2 separate regions of the Homo sapiens genome follow, and region 1 is linked to region 2. The links come from fine-mapping of genetic effects on gene expression. Tissue or cell type: whole blood. Region 2 holds a variant in brackets; the other region holds the start of a gene. Each region is shown on its reference strand, or each on the opposite one. Region 1 holds the start of KLHL33 (kelch like family member 33). Region 2 has its middle 86 kb from the start of IKZF1.

The links. PIP is the estimated chance that this variant, and not a neighbour inherited with it, causes the effect.
Region 1: it holds the start of KLHL33, and the variant in region 2 is the best candidate, but not a certain one, in a credible set for the expression of KLHL33 in whole blood (TOPMed, PIP 0.81).

What each region holds. Positions count from the first base shown.
Region 1 is chr14:20,434,673-20,437,579 of GRCh38, forward strand. It overlaps KLHL33 (kelch like family member 33), which reads right to left and starts at 1,494. Exons shown (of 5, transcript NM_001365790.2): 1 at 1,427-1,494; 2 at 392-1,158. The coding sequence starts at 1,139. RefSeq lists an enhancer at 1,041-1,950.
Region 2 is chr7:50,217,592-50,220,498 of GRCh38, forward strand. No RefSeq gene overlaps it. Among named protein-coding and RNA genes, the nearest start is that of IKZF1, 86 kb to the right of the region's middle. The variant A/T (reference allele first, on the strand shown) is at 1,292.

The sequences.
Region 1 (2,907 bases), not on the chromosome of region 2:
CATGTTCCCCTGGCTTTCCTGTGTCCTGAATGGAGGATGCCAAGAAGGGCCTTTTGTTAATTTCTGCTTGAGTCAATCCACTTTCTGCTTGTTCTACTGCCATGGATTGTACCCTTAGCTCTAGCCAGCTGGCTGGAGATTCCTTGTTACTGGACACAGGAAAAGCCAGACAGAGGGTCAGTTTAAATCTGTCAGAGCGCCTAGAAAACAACTCGACTGCGCATGCCCGGCTCTCCGTGGGGCAGGAGAGGCACCAAAGGCCACCCCAGGGAAATTCTGACAGCAGCAGGGATCAAAACCATCATGGTGGGGATAAAACCACCTGCTGCTTGCACACACCATTCCGTTAGCATATGCACCTGCAGTAATTTAATGCCCCACAGGCCCTCACCCGACAGCTGGCAGCCGCCTGCCTCCAGCTTCAAGTCACACCCGACGCCCTCTCGGTAGAGGAGCTCGATTCCGCGCAGGTTCTCCCTCAGCTCCTCTGCCTGGCTGGGCTTCTTTACATCTTCCCTGGCATTTCCAGCCCTCTCGCATGTCTGCTGGGCAGCAGCCTTCACCCGGGGCGCTCCCAGCGCCTCTGCTGCGGCCAGCACATCCCCCTGCGAGGCGGGGCCCAGCACCCCCTCATAGGCAAAGGTCAGCACGGCCTCCCAGCCCCCTGGGGACACCTCGAGGCTGAAGGGGGGCCGCGGACCTCCGCCGCCCAGCAGCCTGTCTCGGAAGAGGCTGCTGATTGCGGCCAGGATCACCCGATGCACCCCGTATACCCGCCCCGCGACTGACACCTCTTCGTCCAGCAACAGTCTCTGCTCCCGCAGCCGCTGGGCCTCGGCGAAAAACTGGCTCGGATGCTCCTCGCTGCGCAGCCACTCGGGCTCTGCCGCATCTTCATCTTCTTCCTCTTCCTCTTCTTCCTCTAGGGACAAGGCTGGAAAGGGAAGGTTCCTTGGGACCAGGGGCCTGGAACCAGGCTCCTCCAGAGGAAAGGAAGGCAATCTGGGATCCTCGTCGGGGGAGGGAGGCCAGGAAGGGGTTCTCTGGGCGTGCACAAGGAGTCCAAGGCAGTCCCTCTGGACGGGATGAGAGACACTCTCCAGCTCAGGGGGATAATGTGGGGTGTCCGAGACGCTCATGCCGAGGTTTGCTGGATAGCTGCAGGTGAGCAGAGGCAAGACAGCCTGGCGTCAGAGCTGGGCCCAAAGAGGCCAGAGCAACCATGTCTCCAGCCAGTTGAAATGTCAGTCTCTCCCCTGCTCCAACACCCTCCTCCTACCCTCAGCCACATCCCAGCACTGGAGTATCTGGGATATACAGGACAGCTATAGGGTGCACGCGGTGCAGTGAAACATGCAAGAAGCCCTGTAAAGATCCGGTAACCGGGACCACACCCCTCCCCTATTGCCCCCATCCTTTTAGTCACCCTCAGGAGACACCAGCGTTCCGCTTGCCCTCTCACTTAAGCGCCCGCTGTGCTTGGGGCTGCGTGGCAGAGGGAACTTGCCCACATGGCATCCCAGTCAGCCAGTGGCCCCATGGGGCTAATTATAGCCAGTCCTGGCTGGCTAGGCACTTGGCACCTGGTGTCCTAACTCTGACACCCAATCCCCTGGGCTCCCTCCCAGACTGACATCCCCACCCTTCCACCTGTAGGTCATACAGGAGTGTGCTGAGCTAGGCAAATTAGGAAACCAAGGAGAATGAGGGGATCTGGTGGAATGAGCCCAAGGCCAGAAGGGCTGGGCCACTAGAGTGGGCTGGAAGGATCAGGCAAAGAGTCTGGACCAGGCTTTGGCTGTTGACTTTTCTGTGCATGATAAAGCTGGGACCCCGCCGGGCATGGTGGTTCTTGCCTGTAATCCTAGCACTTTGGGAGGCCAAGGTGGGTGAGTCACTGGAGCCCAGGAATTTGAGACCAGCCTGGGTAATATGATGAAACTCCATATTTTTTATATCTACCAAAAATTACAAAAATTAGCTGGACGTGGTGTCTCATGCCTGTAGTCATAGCACTGTGGGAGGCCAAGGCGGATGGATCACTTGAGGCCAGCAGTTTGAGACCAAACTGGGCAACATGGTGAAACCCCATCTCTACAAAAAAATACAAAAATGAGCCAGGCATGGTGGGGCACATCTTTAGTCCCAGCTTCTTAGGAGGCTGAGGTGGGAGGATCACTTGAGCCCAGGAGGCAGAGGTTGCAGTGAGCTGAGGTCGCACCACACACTCCAGCTTGGGTGACAGAGCAAAACCCTGTCTCAAAAAACAAAAAAGCTGGGACCCAGGAGCGAATATAGCCCAGCTTTATTCATGGAGGGCAGAAGAGTGGGGAAAGTGAAGGGCCAGGGGGCAGGGCTACGGACCTAGGTGGCTCACCCCACACAGGGATTACTATCTGTCCAGAGGTGGGGTCCAGGGTAAGAGCCTGAAATCCAACCCTGTGTCTTTGGAAAAGTGTGGGGAATTCTAACTCTCATCTTGGCACTGGGATAAGAACCAGACAGTGGAAGGTGTGCTTGATCTGCATGCTGTGAGGACCAGAGTCCTGGACTAGATGGGCTATGGACATGCAAGTATTCCATTTGAGCCAGACGGTAACAGCCACTCCTTCTCCCTCCAGGACAACACTTCCTTTCTCATCCTGAGGCCAAGTGCTAGACTAAAGCCCCTAAAAGCCAGGCAATCACTTTGTGCCGCAGTTTTGAGTGTCATCTTGCAGAAAGGATTTAGGGAAAGGTGCAGTGACACACTTCCTCTCCCTTCTCTGGGGGAGGTAGGACAGGCCAAGGACTCCTACTTCCTGGCCTATAAAATGTCTGGTCCAGGCTGGATAGGTTGACTCCACAGGCAGACTTAATAAGGGAAGGAGGAACGATTGCTCCTTGTGATTCAGATGAAAGGGCTCA
Region 2 (2,907 bases):
AGAACCAGCAGCATTTCAGAGGGCGGGGGAATTCACAAGTCAGCTTTCATCCCTTGAGGTTGTTTCCAATGTTAGAGGATATTGTGGGGATATTTTACTACCAGTTTATTGGTATTAGTCTCCAATAACAATAACCACAACTGGGCAAATCTCTTTTTTCATTTCACTGATTAATATTAGAGACAAAGTTTAAATGCCCGAGAGAAGAACCATCTGTGAAAATGAATTGGGAGGGCTGTGATGCAAACTCCCTTATCGAGGTTGCACTGTGTGCTTGGCATCGATTTCATTATCTCCCATTTCCTACTTATAATGTAATGGTCAGCCTTTTCCTGTTACCCAAGGGTAGCAATTTCCACTTTAGAGAACATATTTCTTACATATCCTTTGGTAATCATGGACAACTTAATGATTTCCCCTTGCTCTCTACACAAGAGCCTCCTGCTGTCTTTCAAGTAAAAAGCCAGGCTCTCCTTTGCAGGCAGGAAGCCTGTGGCCAAAGCCCTGCTCAGCAATCTGGGATTGCACATCTCACATGGCAACGGAAACTGAAGTGGTCTTTAAATGCCAAAGAGGAACCACTTCTCAGGTTGAAATCAGGCTACCAGGCCTTTGGGAAAATGCAGGCCAGTAACCAATTTCTGAGGGACAGATCACCACAAGAGAGAAACGTGCTCCCCAAACAAATATAAACCTCATTTTATTTAGAAGTAAGGCTTCTTCATCCTCTCCAGCTAGCAGCCGTGCTGAGGTGGGGGAAAGGTACTGACTTACCTGCTCTCCCTGGCTGATGACATAAAGGTGAGCACCTGCCAGGTGCAGTGGCTAGCGCCTGTAATCCCAGCACTTTGAGAGGCCGAGGCAGGTGGATCACCTGAGGTCAGGAGTTCGAGAGCAGCCTGACCAACATGGAGAAACCCCATCTCTACTAAAAATACCAAATTAGCAGGGCGTGGTGGTGCATGCCTGTAATTCCAGCTATTCAGGAGGTTGAGACAGGATAATCGCTTGAACCCAGGAGGTAGAGGTTGAGGTGAGCTGAGATCGTGCCATTGCACTCCAGCCTGGGCAACAAGAGCGAAACTTCGTCTCAAAAAAAAAAAAAATGAGCACCTTTCCACAGTGCCAGTAGAAGATGAGAGTCTAAGCCAGATATGCCCATAACTCCAAAGCTCAGGAAGATCCCAGGGGTTGGGAGCTGCAGTCCAGAGGAAGGGTGACTCCTGGTGGAAACAGGGGCTGCAACCACACCACAGGGCTACTTGGCCCCAGAGCAGACTGCATGCCTTAG[A/T]AAAGGCCCTGGGAACAGCTGTATCTTGTCCTTCCAGGATCCTCCAGATAGAGAAGCCAGACGTTGGGTGGAGGAGGGACTCAGATGGGGCTTGAAGGGAAGGGCCTTGTGAGGGCTGTAGGTGGCACACACTGGCAGAGGCACTGAACATACGTGACCTCCATCCTCACAAGAACCTGGCAACCAAGTGGCAACCCCATGCTCAGAAACAAAACTGAGGCTCAGAGAAGTTGAAGAATTTGTCTAAGGTCATGAAGCTGATAATGGAGGAAAATGGGATTCCAACTCAGGAGAGTTAAGCTCCAAGCCCTTGATTTTACCACTTGGGCCTTGTTACTCAAGGTCCAGGAACAAGTGGCACCTGTGCCACCTGGAAACTTGGTAGAAATCAGATCCTCGTGCCCCACTTCAGATGTACAGAATCAGAATGTGCATTTTCTCAAGAGTCCCAGGTTTAAGCATGTGTTCTGCCTTCCTGGGGAGGGTCCTTGAGCACTTTGGGGTCACAATTCAGCACCAAGTGGTGGTACATTCCCAGGTCAGGAAGAGGCTGTGTGTCTCTGGAGTAGAAACCCTAAGAGGCATAATAAGCAATAGTGCTTAGGAATAAGTGCTCAATTGTGATAATCAAACAGATAAGGAAAATAATGAGAAGGTGAGATTTCATGAAAGACAAAAAGACTAGTAGATGTTACACCTCTGGTTGTTTCTGAGTTTGTGAGCTCTTCGTCCATCTCTCCATCCACTCATTCATCAGAATGACTAAGGATCTAAAATGTTGGAAGGACACAGGCTGTCTCATTTTGCCTGTTTGGCCCACAGAGAGAAGTTAAAAGAGTTTGTTCTTACACCTAAGATGAGCTTCTAAGTTCAGTTACCAGAATTTTCAAGCAATGCAGAAAGTGGCATTCTGTGGTGGTCTTTAGAAAAGCAGTATCTCCTAAATCAAAGCAAGAGAGAATAAGACCACACATAAATCAAATGAAGAAAGAGTAGTGCCATCAATGATAGAGACAGACCTGAGGAGAGGGTGGTGGTAGAAAGAATCTGAATTAGAAAAGGGAGGAGAAGAAAGCCATGAGTGATGCTTGTCAAATTTGGGACTGGGCCCACACTGGCATTAAAGAGACCTGAATAGTACCTAGAAGTGTTCTGGGAGTTTTCACCATCCTGTGCTCCAATCATATCCTAATAGTTACTGATTTGGAAGTGGTACCCTGGGTCACATATGTCAATATCAATAGAAAGAAATGATTCTTATGGTAAATTCACAAAAGGATTATTTTTGGATTATAATTTGGCATCATGTGAGTTTGACTACCATGGGCTTGTTTCTGAGAATGTGATCACTTCAAGATGCCCTTACAAAATTGATCCTCTCTATTCTGAAAAATTGTAAGCCCTTGACCTGGCTTACTCACCTAACTACCGAGTGGCCCAATCAGCAGGTCTCCTTTCCTGGCATGGCACTGTAACCTCCTCACCCTGGATCTCTCCCACTACTTTCTTACAATTCAGTTAAGGGATCACCCATACCCACATGCTCACTGCCTCTCCCACAGTTAGTTCCTGAATCTGTTTTGACTGAGGTTGCAATTACTTAAACTTTTGCAACC